2 separate regions of the Homo sapiens genome follow, and region 1 is linked to region 2. A link means that fine-mapping ties the variant in region 2 to the expression of a gene that starts in the linked region. Tissue or cell type: whole blood. Region 2 holds a variant in brackets; the other region holds the start of a gene. All regions are shown on one strand. Distances are from middle to middle.

The links. PIP is the estimated chance that this variant, and not a neighbour inherited with it, causes the effect.
Region 1: it holds the start of HK1, and the variant in region 2 is fine-mapped to the expression of HK1 in whole blood (TOPMed, PIP above 0.99).

Annotation. Positions count from the first base shown.
Region 1 is chr10:69,315,457-69,323,692 of GRCh38, forward strand. HK1 (hexokinase 1) reads left to right here and starts at 3,391. Exons shown (of 18, transcript NM_000188.3): 1 at 3,391-3,554. The coding sequence starts at 3,492. RefSeq lists enhancers at 2,405-2,634, 3,925-3,974, 5,560-6,476 and a silencer at 2,945-3,624.
Region 2 is chr10:69,339,771-69,347,770 of GRCh38, forward strand. HK1 (hexokinase 1) reads left to right here. Exons shown (of 18, transcript NM_000188.3): 2 at 4,057-4,219. Among named protein-coding and RNA genes, the nearest start is that of HK1, 25 kb to the left of the region's middle. RefSeq lists enhancers at 1-58, 3,647-4,500 and a silencer at 5,105-5,234. The variant C/G (reference allele first, on the strand shown) is at 4,071.

The DNA of each region.
Region 1 (8,236 bases), 24 kb before region 2:
GAGTTCAGGGGACTTGAAGGGAAGTGGAGGGCCATCTGGAGAGGGAGGGAACTAAGGACTCCCTGTGGGTTGGGGTCTTCCTGAGGATCCAGGGAGTAACTGTCAAGGAGCCTTAGCAGGGATCTAAGAGCTATGCAAGAGCAAAAAGAGGCAAATTATTAAGGAAATTAGTGAAGTCAGCACTGGAACAACAGAGAGGGGACACAGCAGTGCAGCATGGGCCCTGGCCTCAGGAAGCTGTCTGATTGGGGCAGATAGGACCAGCCCCCTAGAAGACAGTCACCCATATCAGTTAGGCAGTCATGACTCAGTGTTACTTATCTGAGGCCCAGGTTGCATGAGGGGTTGGGGGTGGGATGGACAGAGCACTGGCTGGGCATCAGGACTAGGCTGGAGTCCTGGCTCAAAACTCTACCACAACCTGACACTGGGCAAGATGGCCCACCTGTGGCATCCCAGGTTCCTGCCCTGTAAAGAGGAGTCTGGGTGTATATCCAGATGGACTGTGAGCACAGCCTGAGTTTGCCCTGTCGAGGTGCTGAGGCCTGGGAGATTGGGGTGAGTAGCTGTGGTCCAGGGAAGGTTGGCAAGCTGGGCCTTAGATGAGAGGGGATGCTTGGTCAGGCAGAGGTGAGTGGAGAAGGCAGGGCAAGGAAGGGAATATGAGCGGCGAACAAATGGAGTGGACATGGTGGGGGCAGAGGATGGTGGGAAGTGGCCTTGTTGCGGCCAGAGTGGAGGAAGAGATAAGTGGGAAAGAGTGGAGTCGATTACAGAAGGCCTCGGAAACCAGGCAGAGATGTTTAAATTGGCTCTCTCAGGAAGGAGAGGGCCATGAAGGGATTTAGGGAAGGGTCATGACATGATTATGCTGCATTTTAGCAGGATTAATGTGACCTGGTGCTCAGAATGACTTGGATGGCATGAGGCCAGGAGCCGAGGAGGACAGTTAGAAGACTCTTGTAATATTTCTGGCACAGGGAGATGGACTGGGAGTTGGGAGGTGGCAATAGGTCAGGCCTAGAGACATTTCTCAGGAAATATTGACAGGCCTTGGGGCCTGGTTGCATTCATGGAGTGGGGAGGAATGAGTCACCTTGAGAAGCAGTTTCCCTCTCAAAGGCCAGGGAAGACAAAGCAGAGGCAGCTTTCCTGCCTGCAAACAGGACATTTCAGGGTAACCTGGCTCTTCCAAGCGTCAGCTTCTCCCTGGCTCCAGCTCAGATAGGAGTTGTAACAACGGGTTGGGCATGGGTGATGGCACCGGCTGGTGGCTGGGTTAAGGGCCATGTTTTTGATTATGCATTAGGCTTATTCAGCCTGCCAAGTGCCAGGCCCTGCGCTTGTGTAGGAGACAGAGCAATTAGCAAAACATAGTCCTCCATCCTCAAGGAGTTTCCAGCCCTGTGAGCTTGGCAGATCTGCAGAACTCAAATGAAATGGCAGTTGAGAACAACCATCTTGTTCTCATTCACTCCATTTTGCTTAACGGCCATGTAGGTAGTTCCAAATGTTTGATGTGTACCAGAAAATCTCTCTCTTCCTGGTTTATAATTATGATCCAGGGCAAATCCAGGTTTTGTTGGGCTTGAAAATTAAATAAATTGGCACTCTCTATGGAAAATAATTCAAATATAAATATACAAATATCACACTGCTAGGCCCTCCCAGGGCCTAGAAGGGTAGGAATGAAAGTGAGAGTCCCTGAAGCTTTAACCGCATTAACTTTTCAGTCAGTTCTATGATACCTGCCATTCCTTAAGTGTGTATTATGTGCACGTATTTTGCGTACAGTATTACACAACAATCAAGGGGAGGTGAGGTGGGCATTAGTGTCTTCATCTTATGGATGAAGACACAGTCTCAGAGGTGATTCAAGATGCCCCTCTGCATAGGCCCTAAGGCAGGGGGTGGGGACTGTGACCTGGACAGGAAGCTGGGGCCTCAGGACTGCATCTAAGCTCCTCCTTTTCTGTGGGTGATGGTGGCTGTCAGGCCCCTGAACCTACGTCATCCCTCCCTCTGATTTGACTGTACCTTTGCTAGGCCTGGTCAAGGGCTAGGGACTCCTAAAGTCAAGAGCTAGGGTAGAGGTTGGGGGTTGGATCTCAGGGCACCATATGGTGCAGACTTGGTTGCAGGAAAGTGACCTATTTAGGCAGAGGGGCTCTATACAACTGGGACCACAGCAAACCCTAGAGGTGAGCACCTGCTTCAAAGACTCACAGATCCAAGCTGTGATCCTAGATCTACAACTTCCTGGCTGTATAAAGTCCAGCAAGACTGAGGCCTCACTGAGCTTCAATTTCCTTACCTGTCTAACCAGAATAGCAACAACTTGTTTGTATATTTGAGCTCATTACATGTCATTTTGTAAGGCACTAAAGCTCCTGGAGGCTTCCGGAACACAGAAATAATTAATCTAAGAATCCTAAAGTGGCTGTCCTGGTAGCACCTCTAGGGAGTCCTCCCATCCTACGTAACTTCCTCTGGGAAAGTAGAAAACACGGCACCTGGGAAGGGGCGCTGAACCGTGCCCCAAGTCCCAGTGGGCCTGGATGCCCAAGAGCAAGAGGAGGCCCAGAGGATGGGGACAGGCCACGACCTGTGGCCCAAGTCCCGCCCAGAGGGAGTGCGCCCTGAGGGAGAGCCACCGGAGCTGGTGACTCGGGGGCGGGTGCTCTGGGGTGTCGCTTTGGGTTCAGCAATACAAATCTGCCAGCTGGAGATTAGGCGGGGCACGCCGGGGAGAGGTGATGCACTGCCGCTGAAGACCCAGGTAGGCCGGTGCGTTCGGCCTGGGTGAGGAAGGCGCGGGACCCGGGTGCGAGGACTGCGTAGCGTCCCCGGCTCCCGCTTCCGCCCGCTTTCCACGCCCACTTCTGCAAGTCCCCTCCGGCACCTCGGCGTCCACCGGACTCCTAGGGGCGAGCCCTCATTTCCGAGGAATGGGACCGCCTTCGTGCCCCCGGGGCTGCCAGTCCCTAGACTAGCCCTAGGGGCTTCTCGTCCCGGCGGAGCCGGGCGGTGCCTCCTGCCTGCGCCTCGCACCTCCCCGCCTGGCACGGCCCACCCGGGCACGGCGCCGCCACGCGTGAAGGCCCGCATCGGCTCCCTACGTGGGGGACGTGCAGGATGATGCGGGGTCGGGGGGGATTTCGCTGCGTCGCCCGCCCCCTTTCCGGCGCAGGAGGGAGCGGCCGCCGCGTCCCCGCTCCCCGGCCGGGACGCCACCGCCGGGCGTTGCAGAGGCGCGCCGCAACCAATGGGCGTGGAGGAGGTGGGTCGGCTGGCGGCTGTCACCCTCCAGGGGACGGGAGCGCGGAGACCGGGAGCGCGCGAGCTGTCGCCGCGCCCCGGGCCGAGGGGGAGGAGCCGGGGGAGGAGGAGGAGGAGGAGCCGCCGAGCAGCCGCCGGAGGACCACGGCTCGCCAGGGCTGCGGAGGACCGACCGTCCCCACGCCTGCCGCCCCGCGACCCCGACCGCCAGCATGATCGCCGCGCAGCTCCTGGCCTATTACTTCACGGAGCTGAAGGATGACCAGGTCAAAAAGGTGAGCCCCCGCCCGCGCCGCCGCTGGTCCTGGCCGCAGCCTTGCGTTCCGGCATCCGCTCGCCGCCTCCGCTGCCTCCATCCTCCGGCGCCCGGCCTTCTCCGGGCCAGCATCGAGTTGGACTGCAGGGCGCAAGGAAAGCCTTCGCCTTCGATTCTACCGGCATTGTCAGTGTCTCTGTGTGTGTGCGTTTTTGGGAGGGGGGCAATCGGGCGGAAGACCCCCGAGACCGGGCTGCCTGCTGCAGTGTCCTTGAAACGGGCCCTGGATGTCAGATAGGCCCCCGGGCTGTGCGGGGAGGTGGCCGGTGGGCCCTTCCGCAGGGCCTGTTCGGGAGGGTCCGAGCGCCGTGGGAGGAGGTGTGATCATGGAGATGCTGGGGAGGTGATCGAGCAGCAGGCGGGGGTGCTGGCTGGAGGCCAGGCCTCCCATATTTGGGGTTCCTGGCGGAGGGTGTCGGGTGCCCCGGAGAAGCTGTCGCCGGGCTCTCCCAGTTGTTTGAGCTGCTCGTTAATCTGAGGACGAGGTGACCCGCCCGGCTTCCCGGAACGGGGAGGGGCGGCGAGGCCACCGGAAACTTTGCTCATAGGCCTCGTGTCTGGAGCGGCACGTCTGAATGGAATTTTTTATTCCTCTTAAGCTGTAATTTCTAGCCAGCACAGGAGCTCAAATAAGCGACTGGTCATTTGAGTTGGGTGGACGCCTGTGGCATGCTTGTTCTAGCACTTGGACGCATGCATCCTCCTGTCCTGAGGTGTTGTTGCCTTTGACATCTTAGTGTAAAATACTGTCCGCTGGCAGGTCTTAAAGGTGTATTTGTCTCTTCTGCCAGCTGTGCTACCATATTTTAAAGAAACAGCCTAAGCTGTAGGGAAAGACGCCCGTTTTATCAGTGCCAGGTCTGGTACAGGCTCCAGGCCCACCCACCCTGAACGTGGTGACGTTATTGCTGGGGTTAGCTGGGATGGACTGGCAAAGTCATCTTGACTTTGGCGTTCAGACAGGTGGAGTTCTACAGGTGAAAGGCAGGAGTGACAGGCCTTGATTTTCTGCCCGGCAAGCCATAGGGTGTTCCATCCTCTTCCTGTGCATCTAAGATGACTCCCTCATCTGGCACCATAGGAAACAGGCCTACTGAGGGCAGCGACCTTATCAAGGTCACCCAGTGAGTTAGAGGCAGAGCCAGTCAGGGGGATCCAGGTCTCCCAGTGCCTCCACCCAGGAACTTCACCAGGGTCCTCCTGGAGGTCAGCTTCCAGGAGGGAGTGGGTACTGAGAGACAAAGCCGCTGGGGACCCTGCCGTGATCTTGGATCCCATGGTGGGTGGGGACCGGGAGTGAGGTAGGTAGGAGATAGGCTTGGGAATGCCATCTGCCATTGCTCTTTATGGCTTTAAGCACTCTGGGGTTGTCAAACCGTGGCACTCGAAACACTTGCTCCTATGGAGCACCCTGGAGCTTCCCTCTGGCCACTGACCTGGGAGCTGTGCGTGCGGGTGTGTGCATTTCATGAGTTTTCTCTAGTGGTGTTGTGCATCACTGATGTTCTTCCCATTGGACCAGGGAGACAGTTCTCCCGGCATGGCAAGAAGTGCCCAGAACAGGCCTCCTGAAGCCAAGAGTTCACTGTCCTCCTGCACGTGGTGTCCTTTATAGCTCAAGACAGTGGGCTGCTGGGCTGGGGGGTGCCTGGGTGACCTTGTAAACCTCCAGTGTCCACACCCACCACCACCCACAACAGACTGCTGGCTGTTGGCTGCCGGTGGCCTCCAGCAGCTGAGCTGGGCTGAGGTTTGGACTCCATTCAGTGGGACATGTTTTCTCAGACATACAGTGTCTAGGGTGGGCCCAGAGCTCTCCACTCCTGTGGGTGGCTCAATTCACATCTATGGATGCACAGTCTATCTCCTAGGCCCCCGTAGGTACCTGAGTGTGTGATTCAGTTGACCCTTCCATCCCTCCTCACTCCGAGTTTGGGATTCTGATGTTCTTCCCTTCTCTTCCCCGAGAACCTTGCTGGAGGAAGGTCTTAAGGCCAAGGTTTCCACCAGATATTATTTGTCAAGGAGATTCTTAAAAACAAGATGTTTGCTTGCATTTCACCACGGACTTCCTATGCTGCTTTCTATAGGGGAGTACGTGGATTCCTGCCAGGGGGTCCACTCATTTTGCATAGTGGACTGTGTGGCACAGCCATCTGTGGGTGTGGTCCTGGCTATGATTGCGCCACCGCACTCCAGCCTGGGCCTTCTAAGGACAGTGACATAGTGGGTACTTGCTCCAGTGACCTACTCAGTTTTGCCCAAGTGTGCAGATGCTGGGGACCACATCTGCTCTTCTGGGGCCCAGGATTTCTTAGAGACCAGCTCTTTCCACGTACCACTCACCATAGGAAAGGCTAGGTGAAGGTGCGGGACCCCCTGTTCTTCCTGTGGGGCTGGACTCTGCCTGCCTCCCAGCAGGGACCTGCTGAGGATGGTTCCCCCCCAGCGTGGGCAGCCATGATGATTCAGCCCTCCAGCTGTAGGCAGCCTCCGGGGCTCTGGAGACAGACCTGGCATCCCTCAGTAACTCTCATCTATCTTCTTGCCCTCAGAGCCAGAGGTAGGAGAAGGGAAGCTGGGGACCATGCCGGGGAAGTTTTTGGGATTGCTTAGAATCCAAACGTGATCATGAAAATGGTGTCATTTCTTTCTTCATTGCCTATGAGGCACATCAATAATTCAACTCCATAAAAATATATCCTGGGTTGAAACAGTTCAGGTGTCTGACTTCCCAGCTTGGAACCCCATTATCCAGACGGCATCTGCATAAATTGGTTAATGGGTGCTGTTGAAGAGGGTGTACTGGCATTAGGCTGAGCTAAGCACAAAACACATATATTCCTTTCACTCTTCTAGTGCCTGTAGGAGGAAAGGGAGGCATATGTGTGCTTGTGAAGGATTCCATTCATCAGAATCCCAGACATCTGCCAGTTCTGCAGCTAGAGGCTGGGTTCTTTGACCTCTAAGTAACTTTAAACACGCATCTCATCTCGCCAGCTTCTTCCACTCGGTTTAGCCATTAGGAGCTTGGAGCAGGGTGAAGGATTGCATAGTGCTCTGTTTGTTTAGAAAGGGAAGATGGGTCCAGGAAGGTCAGAACTTGGCTTCTAAAGAAAGATTAGACTTCCTTTCCTCCAGGCTTGTCAGAATGGTGAGCAAATGCCAGTGGATTTTCTCTGGGCGAGATCCCCATAACGCTAAGTGATTTCCACTAGTAGGTGATCATGAAAAGGGTGTCATTTCTTTCCTCATTGCCTTGAGGCACATCAATAATTCAACTCCATAAAAATATATCCTGGGTTGAAACAGTTCAGGTGTCTGACTTCCCAGTTTGGAACCCCATTATCCAGACGGCATCTGCATAAATTGGTTAATGGGTGCTGTTGAAGAGAGTGTGATTTGTCCAATGGCCGAACTCAGGAGTCCTTGAGTACTTGACCCAGGAAGACAGGGGAGAGTAGGCTTAGCAATTAAAGGGTTGCCCAAGGTACATTCCTTAGAGCCTATGTGTTCCAGCTGCAAAAGCAAGCATTAAAAATAAATAAATAAATAAAAGGCCGATGTAGTGGCTCACACCTGTAATCTCAGCACTTTGGGAGGCTGAGGCGGGTGGATCACCTGAGGTCGGGAGTTCGAGACCAGCCTGACCAACATGGAGAAACCCCGTCTCTACTAAAAATACAAAATTAGCTGGGTGTGGTGGCGCATGCCTGTAATCCCAGCTACTTGGGAGGCTGAGGCCGGAGAATCACTTGAACCTGGAAGGCAGAGGTTGCGGTGAGCCGAGATCACGCCATTGCACTCCAGCCTAGGCAACGAGAGCGAAACTCCGTCTCAAAAAAAAAAAAAAATGCCCATTCATTATTGCTCAGGGGTGAGAGAGGTGATAGTTAGAAAATTGTGAAAAATCTGGCTGGGCACAGTGGCTCATGCCTGTAATCCCAGCACTTTGGGAGGCTGAGGCAGGTGAATCACGAAGTCAGGAGTTCAAGACCAGCCTGACCAATATGGTGAAATCCCGTCTCTACTAAAAATACAAAAATTAGCTGGACGTGGTAGCATGCACCTGAAGTCCCAGCTACTCGGGAGGCTGAGGCAGGAGAATTGCTTGAACCGGGGAGGCGGAGGTTGCATGAGCCAGGATCATGCCACTGCACTCCAGCCTGGGCAACAGAGCGAAACTCTGTCTCAAAAAAAAAAAAAAGAAAATTATGAAAAATCTGTGGGTTCTTGCAGTGGCAAAGAAAAAAAAGAAAAAATTATGAAAAGTCAGCCTGGGCAACAAAATTAAACCTCATCTTAAAAAAAAATTTTTTTTAGCCTGCTTTGGTGGCATGCACACACCTGTAGTCACAGCTACTCAGGAGGCTCATTGAGCCCAAAAGATTGATCCCAAAACAGTGAGCTGTGATGCTATGATTGTGTTACCGTACTCCAGGCTGGATGATAGAGCGAGACTCTGTCTCAAAAAAAAAAAAAAAAAAAGAAGAAAGAAAATTATGAGAAGTGTCTCATAACCTCTCAATTCTGATGTTGTACAAATATTCAGTGAGAGCTTCTTGGTGAATCTTGACTTTATAATCCCTGCCTTTCCTACCTTAGATACTCCTAGGGTTTCTCCCAAGAGAAGCCCCATCA
Region 2 (8,000 bases):
GATCTGCCTTCTGCAGAGCAGGGGACCAGTCTTTCTTAAGGGGCAGGGATGATTGTATGGAGGAGCCTTAGACTTGCAGGTATAAAACCTCACTCCCCCAGCTGTGTGCTTTGAACTAATCACTTAGCTTCTTGGACCATCAGTTTCTGTGTCTGTAAAATGGGGATTAAGAACATCTCCCAGACAGTTTTGAAGGTTAAATGACATACTGGATCTTGATATACTGATATACTGTAAGCCACAAGAGAATTATATAGTATTATTCCAGGATCCAGCATTGTTTGAATTCCTCCTTTGTGTCAAGCAACTGGGTGAGTTCCAAAGGTCTATTCAATATGTTTTCTTTCCCTGGGGAACTCACGCAGTATCATAGGAGATGGACAGCTTGGTAAAAGGATAATCATGATGTGTGAGGAGTGTGGTCGTTGGGGCGTGTCCAAAATGCTGGAGTAGCAATGTACCTTTTTTAAAATTAAAATTAAAAAAAATTTTTTGAGATGGAGTCTTGCTGCATTGCCCAGGCTGGAGTGCGATGGCGCGATCTTGGCTGACTGCAATCTTCTCTACCTCCTGGGTTCACGCGATTCTCATATCTCAGTCTCCTGAGTAGCTGGGATTACAGGCATGCACCACCATGCCCAGCTAATTTTTGTATTTTTAGTAGAGACCGGGTTTTACCATGTTGGCCAGGCTGGTCTTGAACTCCTGACCTCAGGTAATCCACTCGCCTCGGCCTCTCAAAGTTCTGGGGTTACAGGCATGAGCCATTGCTCCCGGCCTTAAAATTAAAATTAAAAAATATTTTAGAGGTGCGATATCACTATGTTGCTCAGGCTGGTCTTGAACTTTTGGGCCTAAGCAATCCTCCTGCCTCGGCCTCCCAAAGTGCCAGGATTACAGGCATGAGCCACTGTGCCAGCTAGCAATGTAGCTTTTATTGTATGATCTTGCGCTTGCTCCTCCATTCTCCACGCAGCAGACACACAACTCTCATCATGGTTGTAATCAGTAAAGCCGTCCCAAGGCTCGCTGTGCTGTGGGATCCCGCTTGTATTTGTTTATGTGGCTCATCAGGCCCTGTGTGGTTGAGCTCTGGACAGTCTTTCCAGGCACACCGTCTGCTTGTTCATCACAAAAACCACCCTCCCTCCCCTTCGGACTTCACACATGCCCTTGCTTGTGCCTGGGCATGCTCTCCAACTTCGCCTCTCCAGGAAGCCTTCTCTCCCATGCTTGCAACGTGGCTGTCTCTCCCTGCAGACCCAGGGCACTATGATGGCAAGGGCTGCTGATGAATGCCACCAGCCAGAATAGGGCATGGCTTGTCTCTCCTCCCAGGGCCATGTTTTTGGCAATTTTATTTCCTTTAAAAAATATATATACATATTTCTTTCTTTCTTTTTTTTTTGGAGACTGGATCTAAGTCTGTCACCCAGGCTGGGGTACAGTGGCAGGATCATAGCACCCTGCAACCTCTGCTTCCCCAGCTCAGGCAATCCTCCCGCCTCAGTCTCCCGAGTAGCTGGGACTACAGGGGCGTATCACCACGCCTGGCTAATTTTTGTATTTTTTTAGAGACGAGGTTTTGCCAAGTTTCCCAGGCTGCTCTCGAACTCCTGGCCCCAAGCAATCTGCCTGCCTTAGCCTCCCAAAGTGTTGGGATTACAGGTGTGGGCCACTGCTCCTGGCCAATTGTTAATTTTTTTTTTTTTTAGAGACAGTCTCACTCTGTCACTTAGGCTGGAGTACAGTGGTTCAATCATGGCTCAATGCAGCCTCAACCTCTTGGGCCCAAGTGATCCTCTTGCCTCAGCCTCCCGAGTAGCTGAGACTACAGGTGTGCATCACCATGCTGGGCTAATTTTTATTTTTTGTAGAGACAGGGTTGTTGCCCAGGCTAATCTCGAACTCCTGGGCTCAAATGATCCTGCTGCCTTGGCCTTGCAAAGTTCTAGAATTACAGGTGTCAGCCACCATGCCTGGCCTCTTCTGGCAATTTCTATTCTGGCTCTTGGTGGTTCCTGATTGCCCTTCTTTGAGCTGCTTTATTGTAAAGGGAAAAAGGTGGTAGGGCTAGTGGTTAGGAGTGGGGGCAAGGATCATCCTTGGGCGCAGAGAGTGTTGGCAGACATTTTGGGAGGCCTAGGTGGGTGGATCACTTGAGGTCAGGAGTTTGAGACCAGCCTGGCCAACATGGTGAAACCCTGTCTCTACTAAAAATACAAAAATTAGCAGGGCGTGGTGGCGCACGCCTGTAATCCCAGCCACTCAGGAGGCTGAGGCAGGAGAATTGCTTGAACCTGGGAGGTGGAGGTTGCAGTGAGCCAAGATTCTGCCACTGCATTCCAGCCTGGGTGACAGAGATAGACTATGAAAAAAAAACCAACCCCAAAAACAAACAAACAAACAAACAAACAAACAAACAAAGGAAAAAACACCAGTGTTAAGGTCTTTTCAGCCTTGTGGGGCTGTAAATCTGTCTCTCTATCCAGTGGGAGCCTTCTGTGTGCAAGGCTCCATGTGAGGCACTGGGGAGGTCAGGGTGACACGCATGGAAAGCTGGGATCCAGACCAGACCCTGCCTAGGGGTCAGTGCTGAAGGAGTGGTGATATCCAGCCTGAAGGACTTGGACATCTTCAGGAGGAAGTGACAGTTGATTTGAACCTTGAAGGTTAGGTGAGCTGGGAAGAAAAGGAAGGGCATTTCAGGTAGAGGTGACAGCAGAAGGAGGAGAGCCTGGAGCACCTACTAGGAATGGTAGAGGTGGTTTGGCCGGAGTTCAGAGAGCACAGAGCCACACCTGCAGAGGGTAGGTGCCTTGGCAGTGGGGAGGCATTGCAAGGCTTTGGGCAGAGGCATGACTTGATTAGGGTTGCACTTTAAGAGGCTGATGCTGCAGTGGTGTAGAAGATGGGTTGGAAGGAAGAGATTGAAGATAAACTGTTACAGTGGATCATCAGCAATCCAGGCACACAGAGCAGCAGAAAGAGTGGATGGTGAAACAAAAGAACCTTCCTCGGTGGACTCTACAGGGATAGTGCCATCAGGACAGGTGTCTAGCTCAATTCTAGGCACCTAGCTGGTGCCCAGTGAATCCTTTTTTGGGAGAATAAATGCGAAGATGCCATGAAGGACAAACAATTAGTGATAGCCAGTGACAACCCAGGGTGCCTAAGGTTAGGAGCCTGGGCAGCTTGAGGAGAACGGGGAACTCAGGAAGAGGAGCAGGTTGGGTCAGGCCTGGTGAAGGGTGGGAGTAGTTTGACTCGGAGGTGCAGGGCCCATGGCCTGGCACACAGGCCCGGCACATGGGTATGGGAGCCCAGGGGCTGTCTCCATTCATTGAGGCTGGGTTTAAGGTTTCTGTGCTCTGGGCCTGCCACCCTGTGTTCTCAGAAGGGTCCTAGCCCTTTGGCCGCCATTTCTGTCTTTCTAGAAGTCTTGCCCATGGACACCTGCCAGTACTACTGTCTCATGTTAATAATAATAGCTGATGTTTATTGAGCAGTTACTGTGTTCTAAGTGCTTGTGTCTCATTTGAACTTGTCCTATATGTTAGGTCCTATCTATCATCTCAGTTTTTCAGTTGAGGAAACTGAAATTCACACAGCTGTTAAGCTCTGGGGCTAGGATTGAACCCAGTTGGCTGGCTCCAGAGCCCTTGTTCGTAGCCTCTCTGTCATTCCCATCCCAGTGAGAGTGAGCCAGCCAATTCTCAGAGAGAGAAGGAGGCTTGAGGTGTTCCTGATACTGGAGGAAACCTACCTCCATCAAGTACTTGGGGGTTGAAGAGCAGCTTCCATGTCATATTTGAGGGTTGGAAAGGATCTTAGAGATATCGGGTTCATTTTACAGGCCAGGAACTAGGGCTCAGAGCATTTGCAAGCCTGTTCTGGGTGACATGGATGACAGCAGTTGAATGACCTTCCGCCATGCGATGTGCCAGCGTGCGTGTTCCTGTGCCTGTGGGAGCTGGCTATCTCAGCGGGTGGGTGCCTCACCTTGCCCTGTCCTCCCCCTCGACCTCACTCTCCTTCCTTCTCATCCCCCTCCAGATTGACAAGTATCT[C/G]TATGCCATGCGGCTCTCCGATGAAACTCTCATAGATATCATGACTCGCTTCAGGAAGGAGATGAAGAATGGCCTCTCCCGGGATTTTAATCCAACAGCCACAGTCAAGATGTTGCCAACATTCGTAAGGTCCATTCCTGATGGCTCTGGTAAGTCTGTCACCCAGAGATTGAACCCTGAGGGCTAAATGTTCTGTGAAATCTTCCTTCTAACTTCATTTGTTCATACATTTGCTCATTCATTCATTCACCATTCCATCAATCTGCTCTCCCATCCATCCATCCATCCATCCGCTGATCCATCTGCTGATCCATCCATCCATCCATCCATCCGCTGATCCATCCATCCAATATGTGTCTACTGAGACCTTATGCCAGTCACTGGGGATACCATGGTTGGGCAAGGCTGACCTGCTGTCATTGACTTTACTGTCTAGTGGCTTGTGATACTTTAGAAAGTGTAGTGTTTATGGGTCTCGCAGATACTGTGTGGGTTGCTCTTATGTCTTCAGAACATGAAGAACTCCAGAACAAATGAAGGGTTCATTTTAGGGAAATCTCTCCATCAGGGAATCAAAGCTTCCCTCTCTTCTTATCCCAGATAATAGCAATCCTAATGGACAGGTGGGTCTCAGACTTAAAGGCAGAGATTCCAGACCCCCTTTGGACAGATTTCACAGATGCAGAATTGAGGCAGCCCCCAAAACAAAGAAATACAGAGGGGAGGTAGAATTGAAAGAAAAATTGTATCCTTTCACTCTGCATCCTGTGGCTCATACCCTGCAGTGGGGCGTTGGGGGAGGGCCCCCTGAGGATTGTCTGTTTCTCCTCCCCAGAGGAGTGGTATCAGCCCCTGCACCTGGCTGAGCGGAGACTGAGAAGTCGCAGTCTGGCCTGCTCAGTGGAAGCTGTTCTTCCCGGCAGACCCGCAGTTACTAGTTTGTGGAGGTGAATGCTGTGCTTGCTCCAGCGTGGCGCCCTCACAGGAATCCCCTGTTAGCTGTGTTCTGTGCTCTAGGGTGGGGCTCACCTGCTGTAGGCAGCAGAGGGAGGGAGAGCAGGAGGAAGTCAGGTTTCCCTTGGGGTTGTGAGTACACGACCAGTGAGTACAGCTTTCACACACCCCTGCGATTTCTTCCCTGCTCTCGAGGCTCTTATTTAAAGGAGTGATTTGGGGCATCTTGTATGCAGCCTGCAAAATGGACGCCAGGAAACTGCAGCTGTTGCAACTGATGTTCTTGAAAGATGGGCAAGTGGGAGTAGGCTGGTTGCAGCAGGAAAAGACCTCTGCTCTCTGCCTGCAGTCATCCTGAATGAGATTTGGACGCTGATAAAGAGGCCTTGTGCTGTTCACTGTGGCCACGGGTGGGGTCTACTTCATGCTCACATATTAGCATGTATATCTCTGATGTAAGCCTACTCCACCTCCACCCTTTTGTTTAGGTGTTGATTACTAGCACCTACTTCTAGCTTTTTAAGAACTACTGAAGAGATTCTGGCCATCAGAGTGAATAGACTGTGGTCTACCCTGGGTGTGTTCGCTTGTCTCTGGCTGGAGAAGAAAGAACTTTATATATAGTTCACTCTTGCTTTTTCCCAGCCATGGATGTCACCTACAGCCAGGAGCACTGGAACCTTTCCAGGATGAGGAGAGCTATGTAGCAGAGGCATGGCTCTGACTGCTTCCAGCTGAGAGAAGAGGAAGGAGCGGGGAGGGGAGGGGGTATGGGCAGCACCCAGGAGAGCACCTGCTTTGGCTTTGCTTGGGAGAGCTCAGAAGGCTACCTGATCCCTGCGAGGCACCTGGCCCTGTGTGACTGGCTCAGGGCAGACACAGGGGAGGAGACACTTTGCCTCCTACCCACTGGGCCCTGCTCTCAAGCCAGCTGTGTCCCAGGGACCTATGTCAGCAGGGGTGCTCTCCCTCTCCTTCACAAACTGTTTCCAGGATTGAGAGTCTCAAGGTGTGATCCAAGTGCAGTAGAAATCCAGCCATTTGCCATATTGGCTACTCCTCCAAACAAGGCTTAGAACTCATACTCATTTGTGAAATGTATTTTTCACCCCCTTTTAGAGATTCATAGAAACGGCACCCCCCCATTCCAAATATTTATGGGTGGGTTCAGTTCATGTGCCCCAGAGCCCACACTTCGCTTGCAATGGTCCCTACAGCCCCGCAAAGACATTGCTGTTGATGCTAAGGACTTGGATACCCAACCCCCAGTCCACTTCCTGCCCCTTCGTGTTGTGCCGGGCTTCTGTCTTCACCTCCCCCTGCCTCTTGGCTCCTTTATCATCCAAGAATCAGGAGATCCCTGCAGTAATCAGAATCTGGGTCTCTTAATAGTAAATCCATAGTGCTGTTCCCTTTTTGAAATGTTAATCACTGCTTCAACTGTAGTAATTAGTGACAGAATTAGTGGTAATCCCAAACCACGGAGGGATAAATTGGCGCTCACCATGGTGGAGCAATGCCTAAGTGGTGATGTGATTTCCAAGGCAAAGGAAGGAAACAAGCCTTTCCTTTCTTGCTGACCTTGACCCTGGTCGACTAGACACAGAGTTTTGGAACTCAACTGACTTTCCAGAAGCATTTCTGAAAACATATCTGATACATACATTCTGATACCTATCAGCCCATTTTTAATTAGTTTCTTTCTTTTTTGGTCATTTTTTTTTTAATGGGCAGTGAGGTTTTTGTTTTTGGTATTTTGTAGAGATAGGGTTTTGCCATGTTGCCCAGACTGGTCTTGAACTCCTAGGCTCAGGCGATCCTCCCACCTCCCAAAGTGCTGGGATTACAGGCGTGAGCCACCTCACCTGGCCTGTTTTTATTTTTATTTTTTAGTTGTTCTTCAATAATCTGTATATCATTAAAAAAACCCCAAAAACCTAAAGTGGCTTTTTGCTGCTGCATATCATTTTTGAGGTAGTGGATGAATGAATAATAAAGAAGGAAAATATTGAAGCCTCTTAACATTGGTGATTTGGCTAAATAGAATTCCCTCTTCAAAGCTACTGTAGGGAGCAAGGGAAAACGTCCCCTTTGCCCTCTGAATGTTGGCTGAAAAATCAGCTCACAAAAGGCAGATTAATAGGAGAAAGGGCATACACATTTATTAACATGCATGTGGGAGAATCACAGACTGATTACTCAAGTATCCCGGTGGGGCCCAGATACTTACATTTCCTCTTTTCTTTTCCTTTTTTTTTTTGAGATGGAGTCTTGCTCTGTTGCCCAGGCTGGAGTGCAGTGGCACGATGGTTCAAGCGATCCTCCTGCCTTAGCACCCCCTACGTAGCTGGGATTATAGGCACCTGCCACCATGCCCAGCTAATTTTTGTATTTTTAGTAGAGACGGGGTTTTGCCATGTTGGCCAAGCTGGTCTCGAACTCCTGACCTCAGGTGATCCACCCGCCTCGGCCTCCCAAAGTGCTGGGATTACAAGTGTGAGCTACTGCGCCCGGCCACACATTTCCTCTTTTCAGAGGGGAGGCAGGAGACAGGGAACAGTAAATGATTACTAGGGAGAATGAAGATATCAGGGAACAGAGATTAACCAGTACCGGTTCTCTTTGGAAATTGAATAGGAGACAGATTTTTTTTTTTTTTTTAAGACAGTCTCGCTCTGTCGCCCAGGTTGCAGTGCAGTGGCATGATCTCGGCTCACTGCAACCTCCGCCTCCCGGGTTCAAGCAATTCTCCGGCTTCAACTTCCTGAGTAGCTGGGATTACAAGTGCGCACCACCACGCTGGGCTAATTTTTGTATTTTTAGTAGAGACGAGGTTTCACCATGTTGGCCAGACTGGTCTCGAACTCCTGACCTTGTGATCTGCCCGCCTTGGCCCCTCAAAGTGCTGGGATTACAGGTGTGAGCCACCACGCCCGGTTTAGGAACAGACATCTTTAAAAAGGTCCATTCAGGTGT